2 separate regions of the Homo sapiens genome follow, and region 1 is linked to region 2. Evidence: fine-mapped expression QTL. A gene starts in region 2. The other region holds a variant in brackets. All regions are shown on one strand. Distances are from middle to middle.

What was found. PIP is the estimated chance that this variant, and not a neighbour inherited with it, causes the effect. A credible set is the group of variants that fine-mapping cannot tell apart.
Region 1: its variant is the best candidate, but not a certain one, in a credible set for the expression of MAP3K1 in regulatory T cells (Bossini-Castillo 2019, PIP 0.90).

Annotation. Positions count from the first base shown.
Region 1 is chr5:56,900,193-56,908,531 of GRCh38, reverse strand. No RefSeq gene overlaps it. Among named protein-coding and RNA genes, the nearest start is that of SETD9, 5.2 kb to the left of the region's middle. The variant C/T (reference allele first, on the strand shown) is at 3,993.
Region 2 is chr5:56,810,773-56,819,111 of GRCh38, reverse strand. It overlaps MAP3K1 (mitogen-activated protein kinase kinase kinase 1), which reads right to left and starts at 3,563. Exons shown (of 20, transcript NM_005921.2): 1 at 3,057-3,563. The coding sequence starts at 3,538. RefSeq lists silencers at 2,466-2,705, 2,886-3,005, 3,076-3,845 and enhancers at 1,931-2,754, 4,206-4,335.

The DNA of each region.
Region 1 (8,339 bases), 89 kb before region 2:
GGGCAAACTACAGGAATCCCTTAACCATATTCAAATCACCAAGTGTTTATTGACAGATAAATACGTTGGTATCATTTCCTCTATTCTTTGCCTGAGAGTGAGGTTGGATCCTAAACTATTGAAATTGAACGGCTCAGATCTAATAAAAACTCAGCCAAGGCCGGGCGCAGTGGCTCACGCCTGTAATCCCAGCACTTTGGGAGGCCGAGGCGGGTGGATCCCCTGAGGTCAGGAGTTCGGGACCAATCTGGCCAACATGGCGAAACCCCGTCTTTACTAAAAAAGAACAAATACAAAAATTAGCCGAGCGTTGGTGGCACGTGCCTGTAGTCCCAGCTACTCAGGAGGCTGAGGCAGAAGAATCGCTTGAACCTGAGAGACGGAGGTTGCAGGGAGCCGAGATCCGCCACTGCACTCCAGCCTGGGTGACAGAGTGAGATCCCGTCTCAAAAAAAAAAAAAATTCAGCCAATCGCCAGTAGCTGCGGGACTAATTTGTTCTATTCTGAAAGAAATAAAGAGAAAGAGTATCTACCAATGTCTCTATTTCGTTCATATCATATAGAATGTTAGCAAACTCTAGAGGCTTTCTCTCAGACTCTGTGTTTGTTTGATAATTTGGCATAATCTAGATTTACCTGACTTGCTAAATGGAGTCAATTCAGTTCCAGGATGTATTAATAAGTGGCATACAAGAAAGTTTCTTTATAGTCTCCAAACTTAACAAAGAACCCAAAAGAACTAGTTTAATCTTTACCTATGGTAATGTACTTGTCTAAAAAAAGAAAAAAATCAGTTTTTGTATATTTTTACAGTTTTTTTATATTTATGGTATTAAAATTAAATTTTGGTTAGCTAAGTAATTAATGAAAACCTTCTTTTTCTAGTTTCTTAAAGTAGGTTATTAGGTCACTAATTTTAATCTTTTCTTCTTTTCTAATGGAAGCATCTAAAGTTATACAAATAGAAACATGGTAGCTAAAGCTCAAGTCACCCTTAACCAAACACCGTACCTTGTACTTCCACCAATCCTGGTACTTGGCGCTTCTCAGAAGTTATCAGACGGGTGTGTTTTCTGCCAGTTTTATTTTTATGTATTTACATACCCGCGTATGTTTTTATAGAAAATACATAGTATTTTGTGTGAGTATTGTTAAAATATTATAAGGATCCACAACTTATTTGATTTCCTCAAAAATACATCTTGAAGATCTACCCATATTGGTTTAAGTCTACTGCATTCTTCTATTTTTGAGGTTTTGCCTTCAAGTTTAATATTTACTGTAGTTTTCTAGTAGGTATGTATACTTTATGAAGTTTTTTAAAGTTCTATTTTTGACTTTCCAAAAATTTTTATTGTTTTAAATTTTAAATGAATGATAAATATCAAATGCTTTTCTCTGCTTATTGAGATGACCATATAGTTTCTATTCATTTATTCATGTAGTGAATGATGACACATTGTCAAATGTTGACCGTCCTTGGATTTCTGACATAACTACTCAGTTATGAGTACCTCTTTGGTCAGATCCTGTAGGTTTTAATATATGCTATTGTCATCCCACATTTATTTTGAAGTATGTTTTAAAATTTTTTAGATAGAATTTGCCTGTGAAAACATCTGGGCTTGTAATTTTCTTTGATAATAAATTCAACTTATTTTAAAGATATAGGGCTATTCATAATGTCCGTTTCATCTTGTGTTGTTTGGTAAGTTATATTTTTATGGAATTTGTTCATTTTGTCTAAGTTGCCAAATATCTTGGTATAAAGTTGTTTATAAATACTGTCTTACTAACCTTTTAATGTCTGTATGATCTGTTGTAATAGCCCATTTTTGTTCCTGATTTTGGTGATTTGTGTTCTCTTCTTCATCATTGTAATTGAGGGTTTGTCAATCTTTTCAAAGAAACAGCTTTTGGCTTTATTACTTTTCCCTGCTTATTTTTTATTTTGTTGACCTCTGTTCTTATCTTTTTTCTCTCTTTTTTTATTTTTAGTGATGGGGTCTCACTGTGTTGCCTGAACTGGTCCCCAAGTGACCCAACTGCCTATGCCTTCCAAATAATTGGAATTACAGGCATAAGTCACCGTGACCAGTCATATTCTTATCTTTATTATTTTATGTTTTCTACTTAAACATAAAGTAGTTTATTTTTCTCTTCTTTTTCTAGTTTCTTAGAATAGAATATTAGGTCACTGATTTTGGTCTTTCCTTCATTTCTATAGAAGCATCTAAAGTTATAACTATCCTTCCAAACATTACTGTAGCCAAATCTCAGGAATTTTGATATGTTGTATTTTCATTATCATTCAGTACAAAATATTTTTAAAATTTCTTTGTTATTTATGTTTTTAATCCATGAAATATTTAGAAATGTGTTTTTAATTTCCAAATATTTGGGATTTCTAGATATCTTATTGTAACTGGTGTTTAGTTTAATTCTGTTGTGTCAGAAAACATGAATGATTTCAATTCTTTTAAATTTATTGACTTGTTTTGTGTCCCAGCATGCACTCTATCTTGGTGAATATACCGTGTTCAGTTGAAAGGAGTGTATATTCTGTAGTTGTTGGGTTTAGGGTTCTATAAATATTAAGTAGGTCATTGGTTCATAGTGTCTTTTAAATCATCTGTCTTTATTGATTTACATAACTTTTAAATACAGATGAATGAAGAATGACAATTTGACAGACAGTTTTATAATATATCATAGATAGCAAGCAAAAGATTGGCCACGATGGGCATGGAGATATGCTGCTATCCAAAATTACCCTCTTCTTCTGACTCTTTTTCCCACTTCCTGTTGTTTCCAGTTTCCCCAAATACTCTACCCAATTGAATATAAGAATGTATGTGCTGTGTTTTCCATTTAAAACCCATTTATGCTATAAATCACAAAACTACTGTGTAGGAAAAATGTTCTTTTTTGAGACAGGGTATAGCTCACTGCAGCCTCCAAACTCTTGGGTTCAAGCAATCCTCCCTCCTTATTCTCCCCAAGTAGCTGGGATTACAGGCATGCACCACCATGCCTGGCTAATTTTTTAATTTTTAATTTTGTAGAGATGGGGTCTCACTATGTTGCCCAGGCTTGTCTTGAACTCCTGAGCTCAATCGGTCCTCCTGCCTTGGCCTCCCAAAGTGCTGAGATTACAGACGTGAGGCACTGCACCTGGCTGGTAAAATCATCTTTAACATCAGTGTCCTAAATATTATAAATAAGGCATGTATGCCTGGACAGATTGTAACTTCCAGAGTTCAAAATGAGATTAACTTGATTTTTAAATAATTTATTGAACTTCTATTATGTCCCGAGCTCTAGTGCAGGAGACAGATACTAAGTAAACACATAAATAATGTCAGACAGTGATAAATGCAATAAAGAAAACAAGGCAGGATAATGAGAAGAGAGTGGGCTGGATATCTTATGTAGCCTGTCCAGATCCACTGTCCACACCCTGGGGGATTGACTGGCTTGCACATCAACAAGGTCCCTCATCTTCCTGCTTCCAAGTGGATTCAACCAGTGGAGAGCACTGGCAGGAAACTGCAAGAAGAGAGGAGAGTGAGGTGCTGGTCTCTGTGTACTGGCTGTATTCCAACCTAAGGTCCTCTCCATGTAGTCTTATGTGTTTCCGGGTTTCATTCAAGCCTATGGATGGTAACAGCACTCTATTATTGCCAACTCCACAGTTCTGTGTACTATCCTTGTGGTTTCCCTTCATTCTGTCCATGCTGTTACACAATTATTTTCAAATGTCTTAATTTGTGTGTGTCATCTGTTTCCTGCTGGGACCCCACTCTCTTTATGTGGGTCACATGGTGTGGGATTAGGGGTATCAATTTTCGATAGGGTGATGACATGAATGGCTGAGACCTGAATAAGAAGGCAACGAACTTGAAAATATCCACGGGGAGATTCTCCCAATGGGAAATGCAAAGGCACTGAGGTAGTGATATGGTTTGGATGTTTTTATCCCTCCAAATCT[C/T]ATGTTAAAATGTGACCTCCAGTGTTGGAGATGTGCCTAGTGGGAGGTGTTTGGGTCATGAGGGCAGATCCCTCACCTATGGCCTGGTGCTGTCCTCACCTCAATGAGTGAGTTCTTGCTGTGTGAGTTCATGCGAGAGCTGGTTGTTGAAAAGAGCCTGGCATCTCCTCTCTCCCTTGCTCCCTCTCTCTGTATGTGATACACCAGCTCCCCCTTTGCCTTCGGCTATGATTGGAAGCTTCCTGAGGGCTTACCAGGAGCAGATGCTCCAGCGCCACACTTCTCATACAGTTGGCAGAACTGTGAGGCAAAATAAACCTCTTTTCTTTATAAATTATTCAGTCTCAGGTGTTCCTTATTGCAATGCAAATGGACAAGCATGGGTGGGGAGGAGCTTCACATGTTCAAGCAGGGAAAATAAGGTTATGGAACAGGGTAAGTAAGAAAAAGTGAAAGATGAAGTCAGGGAGAAAGAGAAGATGCCAAGTCCTGTAGGTCCTGGTGAGGAGTTGGGATTCTTAGTGTAATGGGAAGCCACTGGAGGGTTTTAAGCAGGAGGGTAATAGGATCTGATTCATGTTTTAAAAAGATCACTTTGGATATTATGTGGTGAAAAGGTGGGCAATCACCACACCGGTAAGGCCAATTAGGAGGTGAATACAGTAGTTTAGGCAGAGATGATGGTAGCTTAGACTAGAATGGTAACTGTGGAGATGGAGAGGGTGGATGGATTAGGATTCTATTTTGGAGGAACTCACAGGACTTGCCAATGGATTCGATATGGGAAGGTGAAGTTTTGAAATGCCTCCAAGAAATGTCAAGTATCTAGTTGAATATTGTCACATCTGGAGCTCCGAAGCCATAGCTGGTGATAGAGTCTTTAGCCAGAGCCCTGGATGAGATCACCTAGGAAGAAAAGGGGGATGGCAAAGAACATAGATTGAGCAGTGACCATGAAGTCACCTGTCAATAAATGCAGAACCCTCATAACTTGGTCAAAAGCAGTTTTGGTGATAGGTTTGAGTGTGTTTGAGTGCGTTGAGAAGCAAATGTGAGGTGAGGAATGGGAAACAAGTGTGTGTGTCTCTTTCAGTAAATTTTATGGAAAGAGAAGAAGAGAAATGGAGCCAAAGGCAGAGAATAATTCAGTAAGATAAAAGATCTCGTAGCATATTTGTGTGTTGATGGGAATGACCCAACACAGAGAAGGAAAATGTGGTGTGTGTGTGTGTGTGTTTATTGGGTGTCAGGGGGACAGAGGAAGTAGCAGGCACAACTTTGATTTCACAATTCTGTGCTGGAAGAGAGATAATAGTTAGAGATAGTGGATATTCTGTAGGCTATTTGAATAGCTATGTAGTCTAATGTGGGTAACATAACTGGCAAATATTTATTCATTGAAAACTGTATGCCTAGGTACAACTTTAAAAGATTACAGTCTACTTGGGAAAACATATAATTTCTAAAAATTAAATATTAATTACCATAGAATTTCAGTGTGAGCTACTGGAGTTGGGGAGTGCTTCAAGGAGAAATAAGTAGAAGAGAAGTGGAAGGGATTAACAGAAGCCAGCAATTCTCAAATGTGGCCTGGGGACCCTGGGGGTCCCTAGGATTTTTTCTGGGCTCTATGAGGTCAAAATTATTTTCTTAATCATACTAAGTTGTATTTGTCTTTACTCTCATTCTTTCTTGAGGGTACAGTGGAGTTTCCAGAGGTTACATGATGTGTGATAAAACAACAGATTGAATGCACAAGCAGATATGAGGATCCAACTGCCTTGTATTAAGTTAGAAATTACATAGATTTGGCCAGGCACAGTGGCTCACGCCTGTAATCCCAGCACTTTGGGAGGCCAAGGCGGGCGAATCCCTTGAGGTCAGGAGTTTGACACCAGCCTGGCCAACATGGTGAAAACCTGTCTCTATTAAAAATATAAAAATTAGCTGGGCATGATGGTGGGTGCCTGTAATCCCAGCTACTCGGGAGGCTGAGGCACGAGAATTGCTTGAACCCGGGAGGCAGAGGTTGCAGTGAGCTGAGATGGCGCCACTGCACTCTCGTCTGGGTGACAGAGTGAGACTCCCTCTCAAAAAAAAAAAAAATTATATAGATTTGAAAAAAATATAAAACATGCCACTCTTCCTATTTTTTGGGGGGTGAAATATAGCTATTTTCATAAAGATATGTTATCTGATTTAACATGTAATAAGTTTTAATAGTTATTTCTAGTGAATTAATGCATTTTTATGTATTTATCAGTTTTAATATTGATACAGTAAATAGCAGCTATTAACCACATGAACAAAAGGTCCTTGGGGGCTTCTGATAATTTTTAAAAGTGTAATGGGGTCTGAAGACAAAAATATTTGGGAAATTGAGTGTTAGAACCACATATTGTGATTCAAAATTTTGAGAAGGAAAGTATGTGACACTTCATTGAATGTTGTAGTTAATACCAGTTCTATGAATTATAGTAGTATGTTACATATTGATGATATTAGACAAAGTATTTTAAAATAATTTTGTGCTGCAGGACCTAAAATATTGCATAAAAAGGAGGAGAAAATGATCTCTGCTAGTCTTTGTATGAATTAGCAAAAGGCACCTTTTCCTTTGGCCACTTTACTGCCATCGACTGTAAAAAAATGTAATAAATATACAAATCTATTAGGACTATACTGTGCAGCATGCTCCATATAGGTATGTAGTACACCAGCTAGTTTTGGCAGTCTTGGGAATCGACTGGAAGGTTCTGTGGCAGCACTTCTTGACTGCTCTGAGAACAAAAAGTTTGAAAACCACTGGTGTGAGGGAAGGTGCAGAGGTGGGGTGGAACACAATGGATTCAGAGAGCAGGAATGTAACGAAAGGAGTAGAACAGAAATTTTGTATTACGGATAGTAGGAAATAAAGATTTAGGCAGAATAAGGTCAGACCATTAAAAAACATGGACATTTGAGGTAGTCAGCAGTAGATAGTCATTGAATGTTCTAGTAGCAGAGTACTAGCTGGAAATAGAGTTTGAAAAGCTCAGAGGAACAGTAGTTGGCAGGATGCATGGATGGATAGATGCATGGATGGATATGGATGGATGGATGGACAGATGGATGGATGGATGGATGGATGGATGGATGGATGGATGGATGGATGGTTGGATGGATGGATGGATGGATGAATGGATGGATGACCCAGCCAGCTGAGAGTAGAGTGGTTCTGAGAACAAGAGACCAGGAAAGGGCATCAAGTATCTTGCTACAGCCTCTCCTTTTGTTGTAGACTGTTAGGAGCGGGTAGAGGGACTAGGAATACCCTGTTATGCAATAGATAAGCATAGAATCTAGGTTTTAGAATGGAAAAATGCAACTCTTAGTGATAGTTTTGAGTTTTTTTCAGTATTCTAAGGGGGAACACTGAGATTTCTGCTCTATTCCTGAGGAAGGGGTGAGATAACCTTTGATTTTCAGATATCTGGCAGGCAGTGCAAATTAAAAGTTTTACTCTGCTGCCCTCTTCTGGAGGTTGCATAATTGCCCAAATAATTCTTCCACGTTGTTCCCTTCACTTTTGCTCCTAGACAGACTTCTGGACAAAGTAGGCTATGCACATCATCTCCATGACCATGCTTGCCCAGCTATGATCATGTTTCCTTCTAGTCGGCTTCACTGGAATGGTCCTTGCCATTCACCTTGTGAGACTTAAGTTCTTATCTTACCTGACGTCTGTGGCTTTTGAAATTACTGACCTTTCTTTAAAACATTCTCCTCTCTTGATTTCCCTGACCCTGTGCGTTTCTAGTTTCTGAAGATGAGCTCTTGTCTCCTTTATCTATTCTGCTTCTTGTCTATGCCTTAAATCTTGGTCTTCATCGGGGTTCTGGTCTTGGTTTTTCCTCACTGAACATATTCTCCTGAGTATTCTCCCCCGTTTCCCTTGTGACTCATTGTGGTAGATGCTGTAGAGTTGCCTGCTTGATGTCCATTCTTCTCAGACTTCCTTATAGCTAGGGAGTTCTAGTCAAATGAAATGTGAGTGAAAATCTCGTAAGCATTTTAAGGAAAGTTTCTGTCTTCCTGACACAGGCACTACCTTTTTATTCTCCTTTTTCTTTCCCTGATTGTAGATTGGAGATCAGAGTTGGAGCCTGAGGGTGAAAGCCTCATGCTGAGAAGAGTGGAGCGGGAAGATAAAGCATGGCAACATTGATGACACCCTAGGCCTAATACACCAGCCCTGACCTGCTTACCTTCTCTCATTTGTAGGCTATGTAGTCCAGTCACTTTTACGTGCAGCTGAGTACAACCCTAAATGATATATCAATCGCTTCAGTGACCATTTATATGTCA
Region 2 (8,339 bases):
GCATTAATTTTCTTATCTGATTTAAAATGAAACTGACACCATTCTTAACTAAAAACTTACAAATTCACGGAAGACTAACTTATGTGACTACCTTTATTTTTATAAAGTCACCCACTTAATATTTTAAGAGTAATTTTTAGGTAATAATGCTCTTATACCTCCTCTTTAGTAAAAGGTCACTAAATCATATTTTTAGCCTAATAGCTTTAAAAAGGAAGTGAAATCTGAGGGCTATATGAGGATATAAAAGCAGCCTGTGAAATACCTTTAGTTTTAAACAAAAACTAACATTAACAAGTACAGCATATCTTGTTCTTTCACGGGGCCAGCAAATTGATAGTTTGGTTTTTTAAGTTACAAAAATAGGATGGGGTAATTATATCTACCAAACTCACAATAGGCTGTTCAATGGAGAGTAACACTGTAATTTTTCTTCAAAGACAGTAAATAGGAAGAAAAAGCCCCTAAATTCTGTAATATAAGGAAAAATTCCAAACCCTTGGGCGCCACTTACAGGCACTTTCACTGATTTCAGCTATCACCCTGAAAAAGAGGGACAAACTTAAAATCTTCTATTTAAATACGAGTATTATTTATTTATATAAATTCTAATTCAAAGTATATTTTCTACATTCAAAGATCAGAAGGAAATTCTAAAATTAAAAAAAAGATCACAGAACTCTCAAATATTTCAAAATCTTAGATTTTCCTCTTGGAAGTATGAATGTAACTTAACTGTCAAAAAAAAGTAAAACATAAAGTTCAATTGATATTTTATTGAGTTGGCTATAATTAAGGGTTTTTTTTCCTAAAACTTTAAATGGTAAGTAATAGTGTAGCATAACCAACATGCAATACAAAATATACACACTCAAATAAGATACAAGCCCTTTCCCCACAAAGTTTTATACGAACAGATTCAAATGAATTTCAACCCAATTGTTAAGAAAAAAAAATTCACTATATTTCATAAGGTTAGGGAATCAACATTTTACTATAAATGAAATCTTTACGTATGACATTTGGGATAAACCAACAGCATTCTGACTCGTAAAAATAATTTCTTTAAAAAAGATTATCCTTACAAGCCCATTATTTTCTTATACTGTGCAATTATAATCTACACCTTAAGCAAAGGGGAAAAAACCTCGGTTACAAAACGCAAATACTAAGCATGGATTACTTAGTCCCTAAATTCTATCTGCCTCCACCTTAGTCCTCTTATTTTGTGTCAAGAGACAACATTAAACAATTTCAGTACATTATTTTTACAGTGGATGCTCTTCTACTATATTCACAGCTCATTAAGAGTACTAGAATGCTGACGTTTGCTAAATTATTTATTGTATCCAAAAAGTTAGGTCTCAATAGATACAATTTCTTAAATTTGGGGTTAAAAATTTTTATCTGGAATTCATTTAAAGTAGAAGTTGCCTTCAAAGAATTATTCCAGTTAAGTTTTAATACAATCTGCACAGAAATGGGAAAACTATAGAGGTACATAACTCTTGTAAGAATAAATTACATGTACAAGTGCACACAAAACTGTATCAGTCACAAATCTCCTTTGGTCTCAGTAGTGCCATGGTACAGTGCGAAGCATATTTTTTAGTTCTTGGGGAGAGGAAGGGGACTTCCAAATACTAAATGGATCGTGATTTTAAGCAAATAATCAAATGCACAAAAAATGCCAGATCACTTTAGATAATGAATCCAAACCAAGGACTCCTACTGTCAAATTCGTCTCACAAAATGACACGCTTTCTTCTCATAATAAAGGTCAGGGAATTCTACAGGGCCACGAGGGACTATCACAAAAACATTTCCAGCAACTCAAAATACCCATCAAGACTTTGTACTTTGCATACGTTAATCAGGTTTTTAAAAAACAAACAAACAAGGATGTAGCTGTCACACTTAAAAGAATTTCCTTTAACATAAAAATTTCCAGTAGCCAAAAATGGGCGAGGCCAATAAACCGCTGGTCTAAATTACCTTACACATACTGTACTTCATATGCACCAGAAGACGCATCTGAGCCGAAGCCCACCGCACTGCGGCCCCTGGAATTCAGCGGGCGGCCCGCGCCAGGGCACCGAGCAGGAAGCACTGCACCCGCGCCGCAGTCCCCGGGCCAAGCCGGAGGGGCTGCGGGGAGCAGTCACCACTGCTTTGAAACTGAATGGCTGACACATCCGGTCCTGGCTCTTACACCACTCCGCCAAATGCAAACTTCAAAGGCCAAATTCAAACTCCAAACAGAAGTCACTCAAGTGACTTAGCAGTGCAGTTCGCATTCCCAGGAACACTCAAAGCCCCTTGGGGGCTGCAATTAGACAAACCGCACTTCCTAAAAGACTGCAAGCCTCCGCGAGTGTGCAGCCTCCCGCCGCACGGCTTTGACAGGCGTTACCGAGCCGTCCTCCTGGAGCCCTGCGGCCGGCGCTGGGGGCGCGCCGCCTGCGTCCGGGCCCAGCCCGCGGTATCTGCCTAGGGACTCGAGTCCCGGGCGGGCCGAGGGGCTCTGCCTGTCACGGCCGCTGGGACCTGCTACTTTCTCTTCGGTCCTCTCAGTCTCCCACCCGACCTCGGGCTTCTCACCCACCCCGCCCCTCTTCCGACCACCGCCCGCCTCAGGCTCGGGCCTCGCCCCCCAGTGCCTTTGCCCCGGGGACACCCGTCCGGGGGCGCCGCCGCAGGGCCGTGCCCCGCCCCCGGGCTCCTCGGAGAGCCCCGATTCCAGGAGTCCCACAAAGCCAGCCGTGGCCCCCTACACCTTTTCGCAACGGTTCCCCGCAGAGAGGCTCGCACGCCTGTCACATGTCTGCAAACAATAACAAACTCTTCCGCACGTCCCCGTCCGGTCCCCCAGGCTGGGTCCGGGGCGCCGCCCGACTCCGAAGGGGTCGGGGGGTGCTCAGGGGCGTAGGTCCCGGCGAGCGGCGCGTAGCCTCGCTGCGCTGAACCCCGGGACGCCGTGCATGGTGCCCGGGGTTCATTCATTGCCCTCTGCCCGCTCTCCAAGTCCCCGCCGCGACCCCGGCCGTGCTGCTCACCCGGCGGGGGCCGCTGCAGGAGACGGCTCGGCGGCGGGCGCCCGCTTCTCCCCGGGCTCGGCCGCTGCGGGACTCGAGGCGCCGCTGTCCGGCGCCGCCACCGACTCGGTAAGGTGGGCGCCGCCGCGGCTCGCGGCTCCGTGGGGCGGCGGCACCGCCACAGGCTGGAAGCCGGTCCCACTCCCCGCTGCGTCCGCGGGCTCCGGCGACGGGGAAGTCGAGGAGGCCGGCGGTGAGGCGGCAAGGAAGAGCGGCTGCTCAGGCAGCTGGTCCAGCTCCACACTCCGCACTTTGCGCAGCTGCCGCCGCCGCCAGTCCGCCCGCTCGCGGCCCCCGCTGCCCGCCTCCCGCAGCAGTCCCGCGGCAGCCGCGGGCGCGCTGCTCGCCTTGAGGGCTCCTCCGCCGCCGCCTGCCTCAGGGCTCGTAGCCCTGGCGCCCGGGAATCCCGACGACGAGGCGCGATTCCCCGCCGCCGCCGCCATTTTCTCTCGCGGGCTACATTCGCTCGGCCCCTGCGAGGGAGGGAGGGGGCGGGGAGAGCGCAGGGGGCGGGCACTGCGCCGCCAGCGTAAGGCCTCCTGCGCCAACTGCGTGAGCGCGGCCCGCCGGGCGCCTGGCCTGGACTGACCGACGGGCGGGCGCACTGGGTCCGGCCTGCGGCAGAGGTGTGGGTGGAGGGCGGCCCGGCGGCCGCAGGTGGGAGGGAGTGGGCTGTGCTCTCCGCCGGGCGAGAGGGCGGGCGGGCGAGGTGGACTGGGAGGCGGAGGGGGCGGGGGCGGAGGCGGAGGCGTGGGCTCCCGGGACTCTGCGCGCTGCACGCGCCGCGCCGCCAGGTAGTCCCGGCCGCACCGGCGACAGGAGGAGCCTTGGCGGCAGCGCTGCGCCGCTTCCTCTCGGCAATCTCGGCCCGGCACCGCGGAGCTCGCGGGAGGGGAGTTGCACCTTCCGAAAGAAAGAATTAGTTCCAACTTGGGTTTCTGGTGCTTGAAGGGGACGCAGGCGAGAGGGTTTACAGTCTGTCATTCCCACTGCCCTTTGCAGTGGGCGTCGGGGGACCCGGGCGTGGACCAGCCTCCCACCGACGCGCAGGTGGCGCCCGGGACCGTCGCCTGCTGCAAAGCGAAAGCAAGTCAACGTTCAGCAGACAGGCTGCCGCGGACCAGAAAAATAAAGTTTTGTTTGTGTTTTCTTTTGAAAAGAAAACATTCCTTCTCTATTGTCCCACCCCTGTCCCTGTGCTACAGATAACAAAACTTCAAAGTTTTCTGTAATACCTTACATCCTGAAGCTGCTGATTTGGGACAACTACCCCCTACCCTCACCAAGTCCCCACAGCCTCTGAGAAACCGTTGGGGCGAGGAAGGGAGGCGGGTGTCCCCGTCGATCTTTAGTTTTTCCTTGGCTGTCTTTGGGAAAGGCAGTCCCGTACAGAACCACATATAGCGCGTTTGGGGAGGGGACCAGCGCTGTGCCAGGAAGTGCTCGGTAATGTCACCCTCGGCCAGGTCCCGGCCCTCCCCGAATCCGATGCTTCTCGCCGCACGTCCTTCTTCCCTGCAGGGTCGGGCCACCGGCCGGGTTCCCTCTGTCCCCACTCCTGCAGGGCCTGGCTGCCCATCGCTGCGTTGTGAGTCCTCCTAGTCCCTGGACTCTACGTGAGAAGGTGCTTTGGGATGGAAAAAGCAACATTTACACGTTAATGATTTTTGACCTTTTGTCAACTGAGGAGAACTTCTGTGTTGCGTTTATTTCTTCCTTCCTTTCCTTTCCTCCAGCTGGTTTGTTTAGGATGGGGAATCTCCCAAAACCCAGGAGGAACGTCTATAGATTTACTTTGTGAAACATGATTAAGGAGGGGGGAGGTTGGGGTGGGGGGGTGCGGATTCTCACGGAGATAGTCTTGTCAGTCTTCACATATTTAGACAAAAGCCTGAACTATTTACAGAATAATTCCATTGACTTCTGGAGACTAGGTAAAATGAAAGCCCCTTTCCCAGATACAATGTTAACTGCGTAACCAGGTTAGATCAGAGGGGTTTTAAAAAGTCCAGATTTCATATTAGCTCAATGATTTGAAAACTGCTGTAACATCTCCCATAAGATAGTTTTAGATCGTTACACCCAACGGTACAAATTTTGAAAGTTCAGATAAATCTGTTAAAAATTAAGTCTACATTTAGGCTATAATTATATGCTATTTTAATGGCAGTCAAATGTATCATTCAAACCAAACAGTGGTTATTTCTCAGGTCTTCCTGGGTTGCCACACCCACCAAATCCTAAACTGAAACGGATAAACTTTCCTTGTTCCTATTTTGATCTAAAGACTTTTACATTTGCACGCACATATTCAGGTACCTGTAAGTGAGAAAAGTAAGTGGAAGACTTTAGCCAGAGTAGCAGAGTAAAAAGGAGATTCCAGCAAAACTGATTTTTGACTGTTTGTACAGTGGTTGAAACTGGGGATCAAAGGGAGAGGGCTACCCAGCGCAGCACTATGAACTAGCTACAATTCTCTCACTTCCTCCATCCACCACGTATTACCATGGAGAAACCTAAGTGTTGGTATTTTCCCACAGTTTTTGTTGCTTTGAGTCATTTTTTTCTTTGTTTACGTAAATATTCAGGTTGTCATTATGCATCTGCATATGGACACACTGATTTCTTAAAGAGAGAATCAAAGGACATGCTTAACTGAAAAGGGTGTTCTCCCTCTGCCATATGTTAATAGAAGTTTCTGAGTCTAATGCGTGATTAAGACTCTAGCTGGTTTTGGTGCTCTTCAGTCCTGCTATGTTACTGCAGAGAGGTGGATGTCAAATATCAAGTACTGTAGGCTCTGAATTCTCTTAATATGATTTATTTAATAACATTCAGGAGACTTGTATTTCTTCCAAGGTTGTTTCTAGACTGAAAGCTCCAATTCCTGTTTCCAAGCTCTTCATTTCCATCCTCACTGGGACGTAAACCTTGCAATGATTTCACGCATGCAATTTCATGGCAATTTCATGACCATTTCAATAACCTTAATACCAGTGCATTACAGATCACTGCCTCCACATAGTGCTTCTGGAAACTGCCTACATCACACTTCAGTTCCTGCAGCATATTCACGTTGAGGATCCACTTTGACACTGGGCATTTCCTCACTGTACATAAATATCACAAATATTAGAATGAGCAGACATAATATACATTGGGAGAAATATTTCAGCCTGTACATCATTCATCATATATTTAGTAAGCACCTACTGTGCATATGCAGGAATTTTTCTTCTCTGAGGATATTGTTTGTTGTTTTTCATTTCTACAAAAATGAATAAACAAAATATTCCAATCTACAGATATTTTTATTAGTGGGTATTTATCAGGCTGACTGGTAGAATTCCAGATCCATCAGTATGTGAATGTATTCACATATTCATGGCTGTTTGTGAGATCTATACCTCAGATAAACATAAAAGAATAATATAACCTTGAGAATAGGGTAAAAGCTGGTGTTCTTTCAAGCTTACAAATATTTATTATGGAATACTTGCAGGAGTGCTGGGGCTAGAATTTGGTTTCTGCATGTTCTTTCCAGACAACATACTTCCCAGGTGTTTTCAGATGTTCTAAGTCAGAAAATCCTGTCATCAGTGGGATAATTGGTTCCCTACAAGGGCACTGTAAATGACATTATAGTAGAAGGTCTCTTAACCAGCCTCCATTTAGCTGACTCATCCAGTAACAGATACCAGCCATTACTGTGTGGTGTACAACATGCAGAGGGATGATACAGCACAATAAATGCTCAGGCCAGCGGCTGGTGTGCACCTGCATACTTCTGTTCCCACTAGGTGAGTTATGGGTCCCATGAGAATCCATTGTGCTTGTTCCCAAACTTGATTCCACCTATTACAATGTTCCTTGTGAAATTTAATTAAATATTACACAATTGATTATTAAATTTAAAAACATGAGTATGTGTGTGCGAAAAGAAAGTTGTTCCAGTGAAAATGAAGTGAAATGCTTTGAGAGAAAAGTGATTGAAACTGGGGATCAAAGTGAGGCAGTACCCAGTGCAACACTTATCAACTAGTTAACAATTCTCTAACTTCTTCCCAGCCACCGCATACCACCACGGGGAAACCTAAGTGCCAGTCTTTCCAATAGTTTTTGATGCTTCTAGTCATTTTTATTTTAATCACTTATGTGAATATTCAGGTTGTCATTATGCATTTGCATATGGACACACTGATTTTTTAAGAGAAAAATGATCAGAGGACATGCTTAATTGAAAGGGTGTTCTTCCTTTACCATATGTTAATAGGAAGTATTTGAGGCGAGGCACTGAAAAAATCTGTCAAATTAGTTGTGGGTATGACCATTATGAAAGATTGGGAAGAATTTACTTTGCAGGTATCTATCAGTAGTCACTTTAAAAAAACTAAAACTGAAAATTGTAGATGATGTGAAAGATACATGGAACTCTAAACGGTGAACCCACATTTTAAAGACTAAAGACTTACAGCCAAATATTGACCAAAAAAACCCCAAACCAACCAAAACAAAACACTGTTGTTTATATGTTTTAAGCTAAAGTAAAATACTTAAGAGATACGTATGATTCCCTCTTATTAATAAACCTTCTAAACATTTTGCATGTATTTGCATGTTCTTAAAATCAGAAATTAATTTTTGTAATAAATAATGAAAAGTACTTGGGATTTTATATTTAAGAACACAACTACAACTTATTAAATTTAATTTGCCTCAGAGTAAGCAAAATTCTTCTCACTTTACAATCTTGCACTGATTCTCTGAATTCTTTGAATGGCCATCGTAGTTGCTGTTTTTTGATGCATGCTGAGATACTCTTTTTCCATTTGACCTTTGTGGCTTAGTGAGGGCTATCATTTTTGCAAACAATATTTGAAGGGTTCATACATTTTCCCAAGATCCTCCTGTAATACTCAATTGCTTTTTTTAGACTAGTGTCCTTGTCAGTTTTTTCTTCCTTTTACCAACTTCCTGGTCCAACTCTGCTGAATCCTGCATTCACAAGGCTTTGCATGTGACCTGAGCAGTTCAGGACCACTTTCATTGGCTCTGTTCACTTCTGCATCTTTTGCAACATTTGCACCTTCACTTTGCAATTGATTTCCATTGTTTTATGGCCAAAGCTGCTATAAAGAGGTATACAAAGTTGGCATGGGGTTGGGCACAGTGGCTCACGCCTGTAATCCCAGCACTTTGGAAAGCCGAGACAGTAGGGTTACTTGAGGCCTGGAGTTTGAGGCC